Homo sapiens: one gene and its partners. The protein of the gene in region 4 interacts with the protein of the main gene of each other region in a pairwise test. Each region holds a gene or a part of one and is shown on either strand. Other genes may lie near its edges. The genes, in order: ZBTB16, GTF2I, GLRX3 and MAP3K3.

Region 1 (4,540 bases), on a different chromosome or scaffold from region 4:
CATTGAGCTTACCTCCCTATAGGGGAGAGAGCAGAGGTGGGGCAGCCTTTCGACTCTGTCCATGACGGCTGGCAGGGTCAGGGTAGTTTCTGGGCCTGCTTCCCGGCAAGCCGAGCTAGGGTGAAAACTGGGGGCGCACCAGGATGTGAGACAGAAAAGCAGAAGATGAGACTCTGTTCATTCACTTTTCCTAGGCCCATCCTGTGGTCATCTTTCCCCCTCCCATCATACCTCCTCCTTCCTGGAGCCTCTGCCGGCTTGGCTGTAATGGTGGCACTTACCTGGATATTTCAGTGGGAGGATGAAAGGCGAGACTCACCCTACGCGGTGGGACAGATGGGGAGAGGAAAAAGGCAGAGATGGCCAGGAGAGGGGTGCAGGACAAACCAGAGAGGTTGGGTCAGGGGAAAAGGGTGGGGAGAAAGAGGGGTGCAGGCCCTGCAGGCCGGTTAGCCAGCAGCTGCGGCCTCCCCGGGCCCTTGGCATCCAACTTCGCAGACAGGGTACCAGCCTCCTGGTGTGTATCATAGGATTTGTTCACATAGTGTTATGCATGATCTTCGTAAGGTTAAGAAGCCGTGGTGGTGCACCATGACATCCAACCCGTATATATAAAGATAAATATATATATATATGTATGTAAATTATAGCACTGAGGGCCCTGCTGCCCTGCTGGACCAAGCAAAACTAAGCCTTTTGGTTTGGGTATTATGTTTCGTTTTGTTATTTGTTTGTTTTTGTGGCTTGTCTTATGTCGTGATAGCACAAGTGCCAGTCGGATTGCTCTGTATTACAGAATAGTGTTTTTAATTCATCAATGTTCTAGTTAATGTCTACCTCAGCACCTCCTCTTAGCCTAATTTTAGGAGGTTGCCCAATTTTGTTTCTTCAATTTTACTGGTTACTTTTTTGTACAAATCAATCTCTTTCTCTCTTTCTCTCCTCCCCACCTCTCACCCTTGCCCTCTCCATCTCCCTCTCCCGCCCTCCCCTCCTCCCTCTGGCTCCCCGTCTCATTTCTGTCCACTCCATTCTCTCTCCCTCTCTCCTGCCTCCTGCTGCCCCCTCCCCAGCCCACTTCCCCGAGTTGTGCTTGCCGCTCCTTATCTGTTCTAGTTCCGAAGCAGTTTCACTCGAAGTTGTGCAGTCCTGGTTGCAGCTTTCCGCATCTGCCTTCGTTTCGTGTAGATTGACGCGTTTCTTTGTAATTTCAGTGTTTCTGACAAGATTTAAAAAAAAAAAAAAAGGAAAAAAAAAGAAAAAATGAATTTACTGCTGCAGGTTTTTTTCTCTCTCCATGTGTCACTAAGTGAAGTTTGTGCCTTCTATAGCAAAGAGAATATTTTTTACATCCTACTAACAGTAGATTTTTTTGTAGTGAACATTTTTTGTATTTTTATTTATAAGTCTCATAAGAAAAATAGCAATGTTCAGTTGTATACCTTGAATCTGCAGTTAGAAGAGAATAAAGTTAATTCAGTTGTCTCTCGCTTGAAGCGTCCCACCTTTTTATTGAAGTACTTGGTTTTGTTTTGTTTTTTTTTTTTGTTTTTTTTGCCTTTTCTTGTGTGGGGAACATGGTAGAGGAATTAAGATTTTTGTGTGGGGACTGGGAAAAAGAAAGCTCTGTATTACACATATTTAGACTTATCTATGTGTCACTTTTATGCCACATTTACAAGGCACAGATGCACTGAATAACATTTTTCTAATACTTTTTAGTTAAAAAATGTTAAATACGTTAATATCGTATGATCCTTGGTACAATGTGCTAGGTAGGCACTTGTTCACTTATTCAGCAAGACCACCATGTACCAGTTACTGTTGTCGGCGCTGGGAATTACAGCAAAGGACAAACAGACAAACCCTGGCCGCCCTGGGGCTACCATGCTAGCGGGCCGCTGAGTCGGAATCCGTGGCTGTGTTAGGATAACTTGCTCAGGATTGCACGGCTGGTGAGCAGCAGTCAGAACTCCATCCACCTCTCCTGATACCAGGCCAGGTTCCTTTACTCCAGAGTTCTCAAAGCAGGGGTCTCACGTCTTCTTTAGTCTTTAGAGAGACATTTTCAACTGACTCCTTAGTGGCTAAGCAAGCTTCAGAAATTTCTCAACAAGAAGCTTCCACACAATCAAAGGTCCCTGCCTGCGTCTGTAGCAGCCAAGAGCTGTTAAGAAAGGAGATTGGAGCAGGTGGCCTTGTGCAGGGGAGGGGATGGGTGGGAGGTGGCCGTGCAAGCTCTGCATTGTCATGGACGGAATAAAGGATTTCCACAACACTCAATGGGTACGATTCCCTCCCTGTCTCATCTCCCTGTGTCTGGGCCAAGCCCTCTTCTCTGGCCCTTTCCCCGTTCCTCTTATCGGGGATAGAAGCATCGCCCTATCTTTAGCTGTAAAACCAAAGCCACTCAATCCTAGACGTGGTGCTTCAGCACCTCTGCCTGAGGCCGTCCTCACTGCCTGTCTCTGACCAAAATAACCCCTCTCCTCCTCAAGACCCAGGGGACACAGCCATGATTGTCGTGCTGGGTCACTCCGGTAGGGTAAACCCACACCGAGCATCAGGCCTGGCCTCCAGCATCACCAGGAGTCGCAGGGAGCCATCACCCCACGCGCCACCGCCACCCACCTGGGGAGCCAAACAAGGCCTGGCCTGCCAGGGGTGGCACTGGGAGGGTTACCTTTCAGCCCTGTTCTCCTGGGGCCAAGACCCGGGTCTGTCTGACCCTGGGGTTGCTGAGCAGAAACCGCCTGGAGCTACCCCTACCACCGGACAATCTTCCCAGGAGGAGGAACAGGTGCAGCCTGGGGGCCTCCAGCCCCTAGAAGTTGCTTCTCTGTCTTTGCTTTCTCCTCTCCCTCTTTGCCGTCTGCTGTGCTTTCTTGACCCCTCCTGCCCCTCATCTTTTTCCTCTCTCCCAATCTTTTTTCTCTCCTTTCCACTCCTCCCCTCTCTTCCTCATCTGTGGTCTTTTCTCCTTTCTTTTTGCTTTTGTTTCTCTGTCCCACCTTATTTTCCCTCTCCACATATTTCTCATCTGGGAAACCAGTCCTTAACCAAATTCTGTGTTTTGATTTTGAGCAGTTGCCACCATTCCCCCAAGCCGTCCTGATCCTGGCTTTTCTTGGGCCCCTGCCTATTTCCTCACCCCCACACTCTACTCCAACTCCCCGACACACACACACAGACACACACACACAGCCTCCTCGCCCCTCCCCCAGCTCCCCTCCCCTCCCTCAGGCCTCAGCTTTCTCTTGACAGATGGGAGGGCAGTGAGCACTCCCTCTTTAAAACAACATTTAATCGCCGTTTTCTGTTCTTGGACATCAAAGCTGGGGCTTAGGCGCTGTGCTGGGGTCGCGGCGGCGCGGGCGCTGGGGGAGAGGAGGTGAGTGAATAGGGGCTGGGCTGAATGGGCTTTGTGTGACCGCCAGCTCTGCCAGCTTTACATGCTCTTTGACCCAGATATGATCTCATGGAGAGAAAGGGGCCCTGGCCAGGCCAGCCTGAGAATGCTCCCTCCGTGGCCTGACTCAACCCCTCTCCTCCCTGCCTGGGGCAGGCGGCCCCACTGCCGCCCCCTGCCAGCCCCGGCTGCCACTGCCCTCTGCCCCAACCCTGGCAATTGTGGGCAGCCTCCTCCAGAACACACTCACCAGGAGGGCACATTGCTGGGGTCAGAAGAGGGGACAGGCACCGAGGCAGGGGCTGGGAGGATGCCGCCGTGGGGCTGCAGGGTGTTCTCCAGGGACCTTAAGCGGGAGCTCCCCGCATGCCCTGTAGTCCTGGCTGGGTTCAAGGAGGCGTTTGGGTCATTTCAGCCTTAGCAGCTCTCCTCCCAGTCGCTCTGAGGAACTCCTCTCCTGACCAAAGTGGAGAGCTGAGGCCCGGCGCCAGCAGAGGTTTGCTGAAGACTCAGGCAAGTTGCAGCCCGTGAGAAGAGGCATAAGGGAAGCCAAGGCCAAGGCCGCCTCCCTCCACTCAGCACGGCCAGGCCTTCCCATGTGGGAGCCCCTCACGCCCCTGGCACCAGGAAGGGAGGGGATTGGGGATCTGAAGATGACTGGCCTCAGTGCCCTGCTTCAGCCCAGACCCTCTGTCACTTCCATCCTCTGCTTTGCTTGCTGCCCAGAGCGATTTTCCAAAAATGCAAATAGCATCATGTCGCTCCCTAGATGAGAGTCCCTGGTGACTCCTCAGTACTCTGAGGATGGAATTCAAACTCCTTAACAAAGTTCCAAGACACCCTGAGTGACAGAGCCCCTGCTCAGCACCCAACTTCGTCTTAAGATCACTCTTGAGCCCCTCGGCCAACCCCTACTCTGCTCCAGCCGATGGGACCACGGGTGTTCTGGGCCACACCGAGCTCCATTCCCCTGTGGGCCTGTGCGTGTGCTGTTTCCTCTTCTGAGAGCTACGCAAACACACACACCCCTTCTGTCTGGCTCTCTCAACTTCTCCTTTTTCACTTTTCAGCTCAAACCTTCTCTCAGGAAGCCTTCCCTGGACCCCTGAAGCTAAATTAGGCATAGAGTCT
Region 2 (5,262 bases), on a different chromosome or scaffold from region 4:
GTTTAAAATAATGCCTAACTAAAAATGCTACAAATTTATTCTTGTTATAAAGACCTTTACCTGCTGTTTTATATAGATTTTTTTTTTTTCCCAGATGGAGTATGGCTCTGTCACCAAGGCTGGAGTGCACTGGCCCCATCTCGGCTCACTGCGACCTCCACCTCCCGGGTTCAAGCACTTCTCCTGCCTCAGCCTCCCAAGTAGCTGGGATTACAGCCACACACAACCAGGCCTGGCTAATTTTTCTTGTATGTTTAGTAGAGTCAGGGTTTCACCACGTTGGCTAGGCTGGTTTTGAATTCCTGACCTCAAGCGATCCTCCTGCCTCAGCCTCCCAAAGTGCTGGGATTACAGGCGTGAGCCACCGTGCCCGGTCTCATATAGACTTTTTTTAAGGAACAGACTAGCCATTTGGGTGGTTAACAGGATTTAGCTCATGCCAAGTGCCAAAACTTGCCGTTGCTGTTTGGAGAGCAACTGTATTTGGAAGGCAACTGCTGTAGGAGTCTGGGAGGAGCACCAGGCAACGTGTAATGTATCCGAGTCCCCGGATGAGCTGAGCAAACCTCTCTAGTTGGGAAAGTCCAAGAGGCCCTGAAGAGACCCCCAAAAACTCTGATGGAAGCAGAGAACTCATACCTGGAATTGTCACCTGAATGATGTTAAGGTCTTCAACACCTGATGCAGTAGTATTAACATTGGGTGATGAATTTATTTTTCCTGAAAATATACATTTAAAATCAGAATTTGTAGAAAACACGGTCAACATCTCTAATAATCATGCTGTCTGAGACTGTTTTATCTCAGTCCTGTTCAAGGTTCTTTCTTTCCATGGTAGATCATTTCAAGAAGACATGATGCCCCCTGAAGGGCTGCCTTTCACTGTTTTTCTCTTCCTGGGGGTACTTAGGAGATCATCACACACTCACAGAGCCACCCAATTATTAAATAACTAAAAATTGTGAAATAGCCTGAACTACAACTTTGAATGGGTTTTCTTTTTTCTTTTTGAGATGAGTCTTGCTCTGTTGTCCAGGCTGGAGTGCAGTGGTGCGATCTCGGCTCACTGCAACTTCCGCCTCCCGGGTTCAAGTGATTCTGCTGTCTCAGCCTCCTGAGTAGCTGGGATTATAGGCGCCTGCCACCACGCCTGGCTAATTTTTTATATTTTTAGTAGAGACAGGGTTTTGCCGTGTTGGCCAGGCTGGTCTCAAACTCCTGACCTCAGGTGATCCACCCACCTCAGCCTCCCAAAGTGCTGGGATTACAGGCGTGAACCACCATGCCTGGCCTCAATGGCTATTCTTTAAACAATGTTTGTAAACCACAGCTGCACAATGCATGCCTAAGAGCGTGTGTTCTATAGCAATGAAAATACAGAAAATACACTCACTGGGAGGGCTCTTAGAGGAGGTGCTCTCCTTAATCGCCGTCTCAAACATTTCGGGCCTATAGACAAAAGAGAAAAAAAATGTGCTGATCAAACAGTAAAACTCTAACATTAAAATTTAAACAACTCAAAGATTTACAAACCAGTAACTCTGTAAAGTCTAAATTCAATTCTTAGTCATGAAGAACAGAAATCACATGCTTATCTAAAGAACCACAGCCAAAAAGACAAACCACAATTGTAAATTTAACATCCATTGCTGCCTCTCATTGGCTGCCCTTCCCCTACACTGGTTTTATTGGCATCTTCTTTCCAAGGTTAGAATGTATCCTGAAAAGAATCAGCGCCAGAATTGAGGATGCAAAGAGAAAACGCCCCACAAACGCAGCATGGAAACACAAGATGGGCTGTGAAAACAGGAGCACTTGAGGCTCTCACTCCGGAAGCAGAAGCAGAGGGCTTAGAGGCTGCCAAACCTCTGCAGACCTGGCCAAAAGCATAAAAGGTGGCCATTGGCCGGGCGCGGTGGCTCACGCCTGTAATCCCAGCACTTTGGGAGGCCGAGGCAGGCGGATCATGAGGTCAGGGGTTTGAGACTAGCCTGACCAACATGGTGAAACCCCTTCTCTACTAAAAATACAAAAATTAGCTGGGCATGGTGGCACATGCCTGTAATCCCAGCTACTTTGGAGGCTGAGGCAGGAGAATCGCTTGAACCCAGGAGGCGGAATTTGCAGTAAGCCGATATCACACACCACTGCACTCCAGTCTTGGGTACAGAGCGAGATTCTGTCTCACAAAAAAAAAAAAAAAAAAAAAAAAAAAAGTGGCCAGCTTTGCTTGAGAGCATCCCTGGGTGACTCAAAATTAAGCCTGACACCAAGCAAATGAAACCTAAAATTCATTTCAATTGATTTCAAATAATTCATGTGCATTAGCATGTACTATAAAATTCCAATTATTCTTATTTCTTTTTTTAATTTTTTTTGAGACAGAGTCTTACTCTGTCATCCAGGCTGGAGTGCAATGGCACGATCTCCTCCGCCTCCTGGGTTCAAGTGATTCTCCTGTCTCAGCCTCCCTGAGTAGCTGAGATTATAGGTGCCAGCTACCACCCCTGGCTATTTTTTTTTTTTTTTTTTGTATTTTAAGTAGAGATGGGGCTTCACCATGTTGGCCAGGCTGGTCTCGAACTCCTGACCTCAAGTGATCTGCCTGCCTTAGCCTCCCACAGTGCTGGGATTTATGGCCGCACCCGGCCCATTCCTATCTATTTCAATTATGTTAGCCTAATCCACAGATGTTCAAGCAAACAGGAGAAATTGAAAATATTCTATTAAGTTGGAGAAATAAAAGGACTTGAAAAACTAAACAGCTGCTCAGATTCCAGCAGCATCAAATAGTAACAACATAGCTGTGTAGATTTAGCAACCAAAAGTCGTTATCTCTCTAGTATGGTGGAGTCCTCCTTCCCTTCTACCAGCAGCATAAGGAAAATTTCTTCTTCTTTTTTTTTTTTTTTTTTGTTTTTGAGATGGAGTTTTGCTCTTGCTGCCCAGGCTGGAGTGCAGTGGCACGATCTTGGCTCATTGCAACCTCTGCCTGCTGGGTTCAAGTGATTCTCCTGCCTCAGTCTCCCAAGTAGCTGGGATTACAGGCACGTGCCACCACGCCCAGCTAATTTTTGTACTTTTAGTAGAGATGGGTTTCATCATGTTGGCCAGGTTGGTCTTGAACTTCTGACCTCAGGTAATCCACCTGCTTTGGCCTCCCAAAGTGCTGGGATTACAGGTGTGAGCCATCGCACCTGGCCAGAAGTTTTAAACATATACAAGAGTGCAGCTTAAAAAGCAGTTTTTCTGACTCCAGAGCTAATTCAGCCCTGCCACAAACACAAACCCACATACCCATCTCCCAGTGTCAAACACAATCAACTCATGCTAATCCCACTTCATCCAGTTTCCTTACTTTTTAATGATGAACTTAATTTTGGCTTTGTTTCTGAGTATCTTCTCCAGCCTCGGAATGCCAAAAGTCGATGGTCTTCGGAATGGCACACCCTCAGGTAAGCCTTCCACATAAAAGTCTTCCGGGAAAGACTCAAATAACGCGAACGGCACCTTCACAGCTTGTTTAAGGCCAAGAGCTTCCCCTGCAAAACAGCCGCGTACACGAAACAGAACATGGGCGAAATGACGCCATTCAATCCCGAAAAACCCACACGTTGCCAATGACAGGGATACTCCAACGCTCAGTATCCCACTCTGCTCCCTCCTACTCCCATGAAGGCACCCTGCGTGGCAGTAAGAAGGTTTCAAAATAGACTTACCACATTTCTCATTGAAGAGATTTTCAACTTTCTGTTTTAGGTCCGTGATTTTGGCATTCCAGGCCTCTGCATATAAAACATAAGAGAGTTAAATTGCAATACTTATCACAGTACTTATCAATACACATTCACAGGCAGGAGTGTTTCATCTTATTTGTGCATCTTATTTTTTTTTTGTTGAGACAGAGTTTCGCTCTTGTTACCCAGGCTGGAGGGCAATGGTGCGATCTCTGCTCACTGCAACCTCCACCTCCTGAGTTCAAGCAGTTCTCCTGCCTCAGCCTCCTGAGTAGCTGGGATTACAGGCATGCGCCACCATGCCTGGCTAATTTTGTATTTTTGGTAGACACGGGGTTTCTCCATGTTGGTCAGGCTGGTCTCGAACTCCCAACCTCAGGTGATCCGCCCACCTCGGCCTCCCAAAGTGTTGGGATTACAGGCGTGAGCCACTGCGCCTGGCCTTATTTGTGCATCTTTAAGAAGAAATAAAAAATGCATAATCTTTTACCATGATATGACTTGACAACTACTCCCATCCTGATACATAAGCAAACTGTTTTAGTACATTGCTTTTATGTTGACTACAAATAAGTGAACAAATGCTAAAATAAAGAAAAAACAAATGAAAACCCCCAAAATGCCCCCACAAATTATAGTCTCTACTACATGCGAGGTATGGTTCTAAGTACTTTAAATGACAGTATTTATAATCCTCACCATAACCTCATGAGAAAGAAAGTAATGTTATTACCATTTTGCACAAAGGGAAACTGAGGCAGGGTGTATTCGCCTGCCCAAGTGGCATCGGATTTGAACTCAGATCTGAACTCAGGCAGCCTGGCTCTACGGGCTATTCCTTTAACCTTTGATATATACTGACTCACCAATAGGAACAATTCACCTGGTAAAATGAAACATAATGAACGTATTCTATTTAAAACTATGAAAGAAAGAAAAATAAAACGCTTACTTACCAAAGGAAAACTCTCTCCCTCGTGGCTTGAAGGGAACGTTAGAACCGTTAGTCTGGGTCGGGGTTCGAACAGCTGAGGTTTGAGGATTGTTGTTATTAGGGCCTAAAAGACAGAAAAAATAATGATAATCAACACACATTTAATGACGTAAGTGTCTCTAGGTTACAATCTTCAAGTCCAGCCTGTGCCAGAAAACAAAGCTAGGTTCAAATTGAAATGGGTATTCTTGTCATTCCGGCGAGTTCCACAGAAACCATTTTTCTATTTCTACAGAAACCCATTTTTCTTCTCTTCTTCTTCTTCTTCTTTTTTTTTTTTTTTTTTGAGACAAAGTTTCGCTCTTGTTGCCCAGGCTGGAGTGCAATGGCGCAATCTCGGCTCACCACAACCTCTGCCTCCTGGTTTCAAGCGATTGTCTTGCCTCAGCCTCCTGAGTAGCTGGGATTACAGGCATGCGCCACCAGGCCCAGATAATTTTGTATTTTCAGTAGAGATGGGGTTTCTCCATGTTGGTCAGGCTGGTCTCGATCTCCCAACCTCAGGTGATCCGCCTGCCTCGGCCTCCCAAA
Region 3 (5,262 bases), on a different chromosome or scaffold from region 4:
CTAATGTGGTCAACACTGTTAACACTTTACTGGTTGTATGAGTTGTTATGTCATTATCCTTTGTTTGAGTTTGTGGACTGCTGAAGTGTGCAGCTGAGTCAGTGGACTTCCTGAATGCAGGGAACCTGGTCGTGCTTGGGTTTGCACCCCTAGATCGTCCTTTTGTGACAGTGGAGGAGCAAACCCTGGCTGTAGCAGGTGTGCTCTGTGTGTTTGATGAATGAGTGAAATGGTCAGCAATTCTCATTTTTAATGGGATGGTTCTTACAGCTTTTTGATGTAAGTACATATTGATTATGCGTCATTTTGAATATCAAGTTTGATAGATTACTTCCACCGATAGTTTGAGCAGAACTAATTTTCTTTCAGATTGAGATCAGAGTGGTAATTTCCAGAAACCAGCCATACACATTTATATCATATTTTGTAATTTTCATAGCAATTGAACCTCTACTTAATTCTCAATCAGTTGTTGAAGTAGGCAGGGTTGGACAGACTTTGGCCTGTTTTAGAGATAAAGAAACCAAAGTTTTGAAAGGTGAGGCTGTTGGAATAAAGAAACTGCCTCACTTGTTAGCAAGATGCACCGGGCAAGTGACATGGAGAACCACTTTGCTCATTGGGAAAGGGACACAATACTTCACAGGGCAGACTCTGGTTGCCATAACTAGTGTATAAGTTAACATAACTAGTATAATGAAGCTAATTAGTTAACATAACTGGTTAATATAATTAGGTAATAATGAAAGTAACAGTAACAAAGAAAATGTTAATATAAATTTCAGCATGTTGGAAACATTAGGTTAGGGCCTAAATTCTTTGATTTTGGTTCAGTGTATTGAAACAATAGAGGAAGTTAATAATTCCTAGTAATGATAAAGTGACATTTTTTCTTATTCTCGGTAATGGTTTAAGTGGATATTTATTCTCAAAACTATTTTTTTCTGGAAACCTAGAAAGTATTAATACATTTTGGAAACAATGTTATTGGGGCTATTAAAATGTTGACATGGTACCATATCTTTTCCACAAGATTGCTGGAATTTGGAGTCCTGTGGCATGAAAAAAGCTTAAGATTTTCATAAACTCAAAAAAGTGTTAGTATTCTGTAATGTAAAAATAAATGAGGCTGGATGCGGTAGCTCATGCCTGTAATCCCAGCACTTTGGGAGGCCAAGGCAGGTCCGAGGTCAAGAGATCGAGACCATCCTGGCTAACATGGTGAAACCCCATCTTTACTAAAAATACAAAAAGTTTGCTGGGCGTGGTGGCGCATGCCTATAGTCCCAGCTACTCGGGAGGCTGAGGCAGGAGAATCGCTTGAACCTGGGAGGTGGACATTGCAGTGAGCCGAGATCACACTCCAGCCTGGGGACAGAGTGAGACTCTGTCTCAAAAAATAAATAAATAAATAAATAAATAAATAAAATAAAAAGAAAAATGGGAGTCAGAATCCAGTTGGAAATGGGAAAATAATTGTCATAATCATTGCAAAAAGGCTAAGTGAGTTAAGATCATTTTGCATGAGTGAATTAAACAATGAACTCAAATCTCTGTAGAAAATCTCGGTTTCACTTAGAGGAACTTTTTGACCACAGAGAATATAAACTGTTGGAACACATGTCATCTCAAGTGGTTACAAACCAAAGGAAAAGGAAGTCTGTGGGTCACGTGTGCCTGGGTTGATGTGTAGATGGGTTCGTACTTGAAGAGGGGATGAGCAGAAGCTCTGGGAGCTGAGTGAAAGTAGTGGCAGCTATGCTGGACAAGTGCTGTGCTGGTTGACAAGAGTATTAGGTACAACCATGCTGCTTGGGTCATACAAAAATTGTAATCTTTGCAAATTTTTTTTCATTTAGGAAGCAAAATGTGGATTCAGCAAACAAATTCTGGAAATACTAAATAGTACTGGGTATGTAAATGTTGTTTTCAAATGGTGTATTAAAAAAATTCCAACCTGGCCAGGCGTAGTGGCTCACGTCTATAATCCTAGCACTTTGGGAGGCTAAGACAGGAATATTGCTTGAGCCCAGGTGTTCGAGACCAGCCTGGACAACATAGTGAGACCCCATCGCCACAAAAAATAAAAAAATTAGCCAGGCATGGTCACATACATCTATGGTCCTAGCTACTTGAGAGACTGAGGTGGGAGGATCACTGGAGTCTTGGAAGGTGAGGCTGTAGTGAGCCGTGATTGCACCACTGCACTCAGCCTGGGTGACAGAGCAAGACCCTGTCTCAAAAAAAAGAAAAAAATATTTCAACTTTTCAGTTCTGCCACTGATACTTTTCAGTTGTAATGTCTATATCCATACATATCTGTATCTTTCTTTATTTTTTGCTGTATTGTTTTGTGAATGCCTTAACTTAGATCAAAATAGTATTTTCTGGCCAGTGTCAACCTATTAGTAACATAAAGGAGGTCTTTAGGCCACCTTTGGAATAACTATTTGTCTACTTTCCCAGAGGAAAATGTATAACTGAGTCCTCACCATGCATAAAGATATTTCAGGGGAATATATTATAGGTAGTTTTTAATTTTTCTCAAATATCCTAGTTGCTAAACAGTACAGAAAGCTGAGGGGCACATATTAAGGTCCATTACCTGGATCTGAGAGGTAGCACAAGTTAAATTGCAGTGCTCCTAGTTTTGATGTGCTCAGTGGTGAAGCTGTCAGGTAAGAACATTGCCATTGATTTTTGTGGTTAAAAACAAAAGCACTTATTTGGAGATATACAGCACATGTTCTATAGGGTTTGTCAGATATTTTTGTTTATTTCTCATTTCATGATTGTATCTTTTAAAAATCATGTATTCTAACTGTAGCTTCAAATAAATTACTTTCAAGTAATCTTTGATATACTTCAAAGATCTATTGAAAATAGTTAAATAGTACAGGTTGAATACAATTTCAGGGACATAAAAAGAATATAGGGCCAGGCACAGTGGCTCACACCTGTAATCCCAGCACTTTGGGAGGCTGAGGTGAGTGGATCACTTGAGGTCAGGAGTTCGAGACCAGCTTGGCGAACATGGTGAAACCCCGCCTCTACTAAAAATACAAAAATTAGCCGGGTGCGGTGGCGCACGCCTATAATCCCAGCCACTCAGGAGGCTGAGGCCTGGAGAATCACTTGAGCCCAGGAGGTGGAGGTTTCAGTGAGCTGAAACCACGCCACTGCACTCCAACCTGGGTGACAGTGAGACTCTGTCTCAAAAAAAAGATGTGGTTGTCGTCTTTAGATTACTATGACATTTTATAGAAGCAAGTATAGTCAGTTTATTGTAATTGTAACTTCAAGCCTGTTCCTTTCTTCACCCCTGCCCTGGGCCATACAGTGGGGGCTGGCTTGTTTTTGGTCATTTTTGATTTTCCCCTTTCTTTGTCGACCCTCTGCTGCGGGTCCACAGTGAGACACACACAGTCCATCCCTCTCTAGCAGTACCAGGTTCCTCAGGTGTCTTCTGAGCCGACACACTGGGCCTGACTCAGCTCGTGTCTTTGGTGGAACATCTTGGTAACTTGGCTTTCTGTCCCATATCTGTCTAATCTCCATTGTATTGAAAGCACCCTGTTGTCGCAGAGAGCAGGAGGATGCTTTGGGAGAGCATGACCTCCCAGCTCTGGACTTGCTAAGCGTGATTGGCCCTAGGATGAGTGAGGCCATCCAGGACCTCAGCTTCGCTTAACACGAGCAGACCATGCTCTTGCTGGGCGCCAAATGTATGTGGAGAAAACTCCTTTTTACTTTTTCTCATTTCTTATCTTTTCCTTTAGTAGCCAAAATACACATGCATGAGTGGTTGAGAACCAAGTGTATATTGAGGTTTGAAAGGTACCCTTTATGAATAACTTTTAGGAAGTATACTGGCTGTTAGGACTCCACATACATACACTTGGGCCCAGTGCTTCCTGGATCCTTTATGAATAGTTGTATAACTCATTGTTTTTATCACAGTATTAAGAGATCTGCCACCTTTAGTTCAACTTGAACAAAGACTTACATTGGGGTTTTTAAAAAGCATTAGGTTTACATTGGGGTCTTTTTTTGTTCTTCTTTCAAACATTCCTTTTTTGGTAATTGCTTCTGATTTATCCCGTCATTTAGTTTTTTTGACTGTTCCCTGTACCATAGACAGTTTCCTTGGGAACTTGTTTACTAAATAAACAAGATTTCCCTATGATGGTTTCAGTTTTATGGAAAGTCCAGTTTTTTTTACATGTAGCATTTTCTTTGGCCACCTTTGGGAATTGCACCTGTACCCTCAGGCACCCTGCAAGGATTTAGGCATACATGCTTGCTAATACCTGACCACCTAACGGTGAAATCGCTCTGAGTGGATACAGTTGGATATTCATGCAGTGATTTTTCATTTTTTGTACAAGTAATGTTCATTGTATGGTATAAAGCCACAAAGCTTTCATTGGCCTTTTGTACATTAAAAACAGCACCCTCTCTGAAATAAGTTTAAGTGTGGAAAGCATGTCTCTTGCTAAGGTGGAGGGAGCTGGCAGCGTGGTTGTTATCCGGCTGCTGAGCCCTCCAGCCTCCGTCCACGAGCACTACTACATCCTGCTGCACGGGCAGCTTCCAGGAGGTTAAGAAGCAGCAGCCTGGGGTGGGTTAGACATTAGAAGTGGGTAAGAGTGTTCAGTTAATGAAGGCTCGTGCAGATGGGGGTGTGGGTCTGATCCAGGGGTTGGCAAGTTGCAGCTGGCTGCCCATTTTTGTAAATAAAGTTATATTGGCACATAGCCACATCCCTTCATTTATACATTGTCTGTGGCTGCTTTTATGCTGACAGTTGCAGCAGAGAGCAGAACTGAGCAGTTGCAGCAGAGACTGTCTGGCCTGTAAAGCCTGAAGTGTTTAGTGTCTGACTCTTTAAGAAGAAGTTTGCCCACCCCTGGTCTAACCCAATATTGTCCGGAGAAAAATCCAGATAAAGTCATATGTTGGAATGACTAATTCTGTGTAGTACCAGACAGATTAAGAAGTAAAATCATTTCCATTGGTCTGTAGTACATTTTGTTAGCAGTGAAACGGTTTTCTTGATTATTTTAAAAACATCAAATGCATAGAGGTTTTACACTTTGATTTAACTGTATTTCCAGTTAAAATGTCTTCTCTTTTTTGCAGTGTTGAATATGAAACATTCGATATATTGGAGGATGAAGAAGTAAGTTCTGTGTTTGATGTTTCACCCTTGTCTTAGCTTTAATCTTAAGGGCCTGATAGGATGGTTTCAGGATTCCTGTT
Region 4 (5,262 bases):
ACCCTCCTCGGCCTCCCAAAGTGCTAGGATTACAGGCATGAGCCATCGTGCCTGGCCATGACTAATTTTTTGTATTTTTTGTAGAGATGGGGTTTTGCCATGTTGCCCAAGCTGGTCTCAAACTCCTGGGATCAAGTGATATGCCCGCCTTGGCTTCCCAGAATGTTGGACTTACAGGTGTGAGCCAATGCGCCCGGCCTGTCACTCTTATTTTCTTCAATCCTTTTTTTTTTTTTCTGAGACAGAGTCTCTACTCTGTCGCCCAGGCTGGAATGTGTTGGCATAGTCTTGGCTCACTGCAACCTCTGCCTCCCAGGTTCAAGCTATTCCCATGCCTCAGCCTCCACAGTAGTTGGGATTACAGGTGTGCACCACCACGCCCAGCTAATTTTTGTATTTTTAGTAGTGATGAGGTTTCACCATGTTGACCAGGCTGGTCTTGAACTCCTGACCTCAGGTGATCTGCCTGCCTCGGCCTCCCAAAGTGCTGAGATTACAGGTGTGAGCCACCACGCCCAGCCAGCTTGCTTTTCTTAAAGAATCTTTAGTCTGTTAACAATTATGTAAAATCATCCATATAACCTCTTATATAACCATATAAGCTACTCATATTTAAAAATATTTATTTTTATACATTTGTATTTATATACTCTGGTTTATATATTGTCTAATTCTGTCTTTTTTTTTTTTTTTGAGACGGAGTTTCGCTCTTGTTGCCCAGGCTGGAGTGCAATGGCACCATCTTGGCTCACCGCAACCTCCGCCTCCCAGCTTGAAGCAGTTCTCCTGCCTCAGCCTCCCGTGTAGATGGGATTACAGGCATGTGCCACCACGCCCAGCTAATTTTGTAGTTTTAGTAGAGACGGGGTTTCTCCATGTTGGTCAGGCTGTTCTCGAACCCCTAACCTCAGGTGATCCACCTGCCTTAGCCTCCCAAAGTGCTGGGATTACAGGCGTGAGCCCCTGGGCCCTGCCAATTCTATCTTTTTTTTCATACAACTTTGTATTTGTGTGTTGTTTATCTTTTTATCCCTAGAGTTTGAACACCTTGAAATATCTTTTAAAACTTTCTAATGTGTAATACAAGATAAGTATTCAGTAAATTGTTGTTAATGATTTATAAAAGTTCAGTAATAAAATTAAGTATTAGGGTAGATTAAATGGCCTCCAGTCTTTTTCCATTGACCTTTTCTCATTGATGATAATAATAGCCAGCATTTTTTTAGCATTACTGTGTTAGGTACCATAAGAAATAATTCGTAGGTTTTCTGTTGCTTTTAACTCCCACAGCAGCTTTGTGAAATGATGCTTTATCTCCATTTTACAGATGAGGAAATTGAGGTTTGGAGAGAATAAATGATTTGCTCAGGGCCTCCTTACCAAATTTTTCTGACTCTGAAGTTCATATTCCTAACTGCTTCAGTCTAAGAAAGTTGTTATTTGTTGTTTTTTTTTTTGAGATGGAGTCTCGCCCTGTCGCCATGCTGGAGTTCAGTAGCGCTATCTCAGCTCACACCAACCTCCGCCTCCTGTGTTCAGGCAATTCTCCTGCCTCAGCCTCCCAAGTAGCTGGGATTACAGGCGCACACCACCACGCGCAGTTAATTTTTTTGTATTTTTAGTAGAGACGGGGTTTCACCATGTTGGCCAGGCTGGTTTCGAACTCCTGACCTCAAGTGATCCACGCATCTTGGCCTCCCAAAGTGCTAGAATTACAGGCGTGAGCCTCTGCGCCCAGCCTGTTATTTGTTTTTAAAAGTTTTGTTTGTTTTTAAAGAATGCCACATTGGAGGAGTGCTGATAATTCAGTTAGTCTCAGTCCATACCACAGAGATAACTGGCTTGTGGCAGCCAAGTGTGCATAGTGATGTTGCTTTTTAGAAGGAAAAAAAACAAAAACAAAACCTCAATCCAGGAAGAAATGCCTAAAAGAGCCACTTGATTTACTTCCTGTCTTTATACATGTCCTCTGAAGTATCAGTTGAAGAACCTGTCTACCTCTAGGAATGTATTTTACTTTGACACAAAATTAGATTCTATAACCCTGATTCACTTGTGTCAGTTGTCCCAGATTTCAGATGACAGTGCCAAACTTTTCCACTAGTGTGTTCTCAGCTCTGGAACTACTAAACAAGTTTGTTCATTAAGTAATGCCAGGAATTGGTTAGCTTCCTGGAAACAGAATTTGTCAACCTGATAAACCAGCTCTTATAATAGCGTCATCTTATACAGAATTAGAAATGATTTCTTCAGTCATACTTGTGGATCTGACTTGAAAAGTGGTGTGTGTATGTGTGTGCCTGTATGTGTATTCACATCCATCTTTGTTCAATATCTGAGTTGAAAGAACTGAAAATTCTCAATACTTAGGGTGGTTAATGTTGTTACTGATAACTCCTTGCATTCCGCTTTTAGGAGTATTGTTGGATGCTCCTCAGAAAACACTTAAACCTAGTCATAATCCTCCTTGTATTGATCCCAATTTATTATTACAGTTGGCCCAATTTTATATATATTTAATAATATCTAAGCCATTTAATATATAAACCTATACATATTATATATAAGCCAATCTTCCTAGCTTAGATGTTATGCTCTAGTTTTTAAAGTTTGGTTGTGAGGATAAAAATCAAAACAAAAAACCAAGTTCCCTTTTTGTTTTTGGGACAGGGTCTCACTGTCGCCCAGGCTGAAGTACAGTGGCATGATCATGGCTCACTGCAGCCTCAACCTCCTGGGCTCAAGTGATCCTTCCACCTAAGCCTCTCAAGTAGCTGAGCCTACAGCGTGCACCACCATGCCCAGCTAATTTTTTGTATTTTTTGTAGAATGTAGTTTTGCCATGTTGCCCAGTCTGGTCTCGAACTCCTGGGCTCAAGCAATCCACCTGCCTCAGCCTCCCAAAGTGCTGGGATTACAGGCATGAGCCACCCTGTCCAGCCAGGTTCCCTTCTTTAAAGAAGCTATAGGGAAATTGTAGAAGGTATAAAATAATTGATGGGATATATATGTGTTAATTTGACAGATGTCTTTTTGTAGATACCCACTTTCTCCTCATTCATTATCCCCTTTACTGCATGCTTTCTATATTACAGCTATGTCACTCTCATACATACTTTTGTATATGTTTTGAAGTGGAATCATATGGGAAGTTATGCTCCTGGTGGTTTTCCTGCAAGTTTTAAATCTAATTTTACTTTCCTGAACAAGCAAAAACCTCTTTATAGGCAACTTTGTCCTTTTCTGTACCTCGTCAGAGGGCATATAGGGCACCAGAGCAGATTTCGTCTAGGAAGAGGGGAGAGGCAAATAAGGTGAGGGGCCAGGCACGGTGGCTTATGTCTGTAATCCCAGCATTTTGGGAGGCTAAGGAGGGAGGATCGCTTGAGCTCAGGTGTTTGAAATCAGCCTGGGCAACATGGTGAAACCCTCGCTCAATAAAAAATACAAAAATTAGCAGGGCATGGTGGTGTGCACCTGTAGTCCCAGCTACTCTGGAGGCTGAGGTGGAGGATTGTTTGAGCCTGGGGGTGGAGGAGGCTGCAGTGAGCTGTGATTGCACCACTGCACTCTAGCCTGGGCAACAGAGTGAAACCCTGTTTCAGTCAGTCAGTCAATCAGTTAATCAGTAGTGGGAGAAGAGACTTGAGCAGTTTTACTTCCTACATTTCATGCTGTTCGTTTCTTTCCACAGGGTATTAGAATATTTCCAAGGGACAGTGATAAAGGGTAGAAGATAGGCACTCTCTTTGGGTGGAATCTTTTGTATTTGCTTCTTTTAAGGTGTGCCCCAAGTCCCCAAATGGCTCAGTTGTCACCAAAGCAAGTGTAACAACTCATCCCTCATGTTCCCTTCACGATCAACAGATTTATTCATTTTCAATCTCCAAATGCTATTTGAATGGGCAAAGATCTCTTAAAGGACCTGGGAAAAATTTGTACAACATGGAATTGGACTGGTTTGTGTTCTGGGTTTTGGCCAGTTGTTTTCAATGTATGAGAACTCTAGTACTCCATGCTATTTCAAGAAAAGGGGATTAAAAGTAATGCCAGTAAGGTGGAGACAATGCATTGCTTGGTCAGCTTAGGGAGGAAAAACAATAGAACTACCCTTTGACTTCCCCATGGGAAGTAGTAGGCCTATAAACTTGTAAAGAGTTGTGGGGGTTGCTGGTGGTGGCGGCATTCAAATGCTAGGCTTGTAAAACAACTTCTGTTCAAAGCAGTTACCTGAGGCCCTTATTTGGTACCTTTTAAAGTGTGCTCTCCTCCTTATGATGCTTTAAGAATAAGTCTGGGACTGACACTGTGCCATAATCCTCTCTCTATGGATTCATCTTTTCATTCAGTACCATATTACATTGTACTGTGTTCTTCACTTCAATTTTTCATCTATTTTTCCTGGTTAAGTTTCTCTGGCACTGGACCAACTGCCCTGTTTGAGCGTGTCCCTTCCCTGCAATGAATTGGTAAATATTGCTGCAGGAAATCTGATTGGAGGGCTATTAAGAAACCATTAAAGGCCAGGCATGGTGGCCCACACCTGTATGTAATCTTAGCACTTTGGGAGGCCGAGGCAGGAGGATCACTGGAGTCCAGGAGTTGGAGACCAGCCTGGGCAACATGGGGAGACCCCGTCTCTACAAAAAATAAAAAAATCATCCAGGCATGGTGGTGCATGCCTGTGTTCCCAGCTACTCAGGAGGCTGATGTGGGAAGGTCACTTGAGCCCCAGAGTTGGAGGCTGCAGTGAGCTATGATCACGCCACTGCACTCCAGCCTGAGTGACAGAGCAAGACCTTGTCTCGAAGAAAAAAAAGAATCCATTAAAATTCAAATTGCCATAGTCTGACCTTTTGGGCTGCATCTGATTATAGTTACAGGGTCTGTCATTTTACCTGGGCAGAACTCCCTGAGTATTAGTTATACAGTTTGTGAAAGAGCTTTGCTGGTCTGTATTTAAGTGTCTTAGTCCATGTGCTCTCTTTCATTGCAGACGAACAGGAGGCATTGAACTCAATCATGAACGATCTGGTGGCCCTCCAGATGAACCGACGTCACCGGATGCCTGGATATGAGACCATGAAGAACAAAGACACAGGTCACTCAAATAGGCAGGTGTGTGTGACCCTGGCAGAGCTAAGTGAGATTTGTTGGGGAGGGGTTTTCAAATGGGAAATATACGAAAAGCCAAGGAGACTACATTACCAGGGTTGAATGCTTTTGACCCCTTCCTTTCACAGTCTGTTAAATGGGAAGTAA

The links.
Region 1: the proteins of MAP3K3 (region 4) and ZBTB16 interact in a two-hybrid assay, tested with the Homo sapiens proteins (one large-scale study listed by BioGRID and IntAct).
Region 2: the proteins of MAP3K3 (region 4) and GTF2I interact in a two-hybrid assay, tested with the Homo sapiens proteins (one large-scale study listed by BioGRID and IntAct).
Region 3: the proteins of MAP3K3 (region 4) and GLRX3 interact in a two-hybrid assay, tested with the Homo sapiens proteins (2 studies listed by BioGRID and IntAct).

The regions. Positions count from the first base shown.
Region 1 is NC_000011.10:114,254,488-114,259,027, forward strand, and holds the end of ZBTB16 (zinc finger and BTB domain-containing protein 16), read left to right. Parts: 3' UTR 1-2,278; downstream 2,279-4,540. UniProt on the Homo sapiens protein: Acts as a transcriptional repressor. Transcriptional repression may be mediated through recruitment of histone deacetylases to target promoters. May play a role in myeloid maturation and in the development and/or maintenance of other differentiated tissues.
Region 2 is NC_000007.14:74,747,548-74,752,809, reverse strand, and holds part of GTF2I (general transcription factor II-I), read right to left. Parts: intron 4,796-5,262; coding exon 4,694-4,795; intron 3,786-4,693; coding exon 3,720-3,785; intron 3,543-3,719; coding exon 3,359-3,542; intron 1,450-3,358; coding exon 1,394-1,449; intron 721-1,393; coding exon 640-720; intron 1-639. UniProt on the Homo sapiens protein: Interacts with the basal transcription machinery by coordinating the formation of a multiprotein complex at the C-FOS promoter, and linking specific signal responsive activator complexes.
Region 3 is NC_000010.11:130,169,725-130,174,986, forward strand, and holds part of GLRX3 (glutaredoxin-3), read left to right. Parts: intron 1-1,859; coding exon 1,860-1,912; intron 1,913-5,142; coding exon 5,143-5,182; intron 5,183-5,262. UniProt on the Homo sapiens protein: Together with BOLA2, acts as a cytosolic iron-sulfur (Fe-S) cluster assembly factor that facilitates [2Fe-2S] cluster insertion into a subset of cytosolic proteins.
Region 4 is NC_000017.11:63,627,685-63,632,946, forward strand, and holds part of MAP3K3 (mitogen-activated protein kinase kinase kinase 3), read left to right. Parts: intron 1-4,996; coding exon 4,997-5,118; intron 5,119-5,262. UniProt on the Homo sapiens protein: Component of a protein kinase signal transduction cascade. Mediates activation of the NF-kappa-B, AP1 and DDIT3 transcriptional regulators.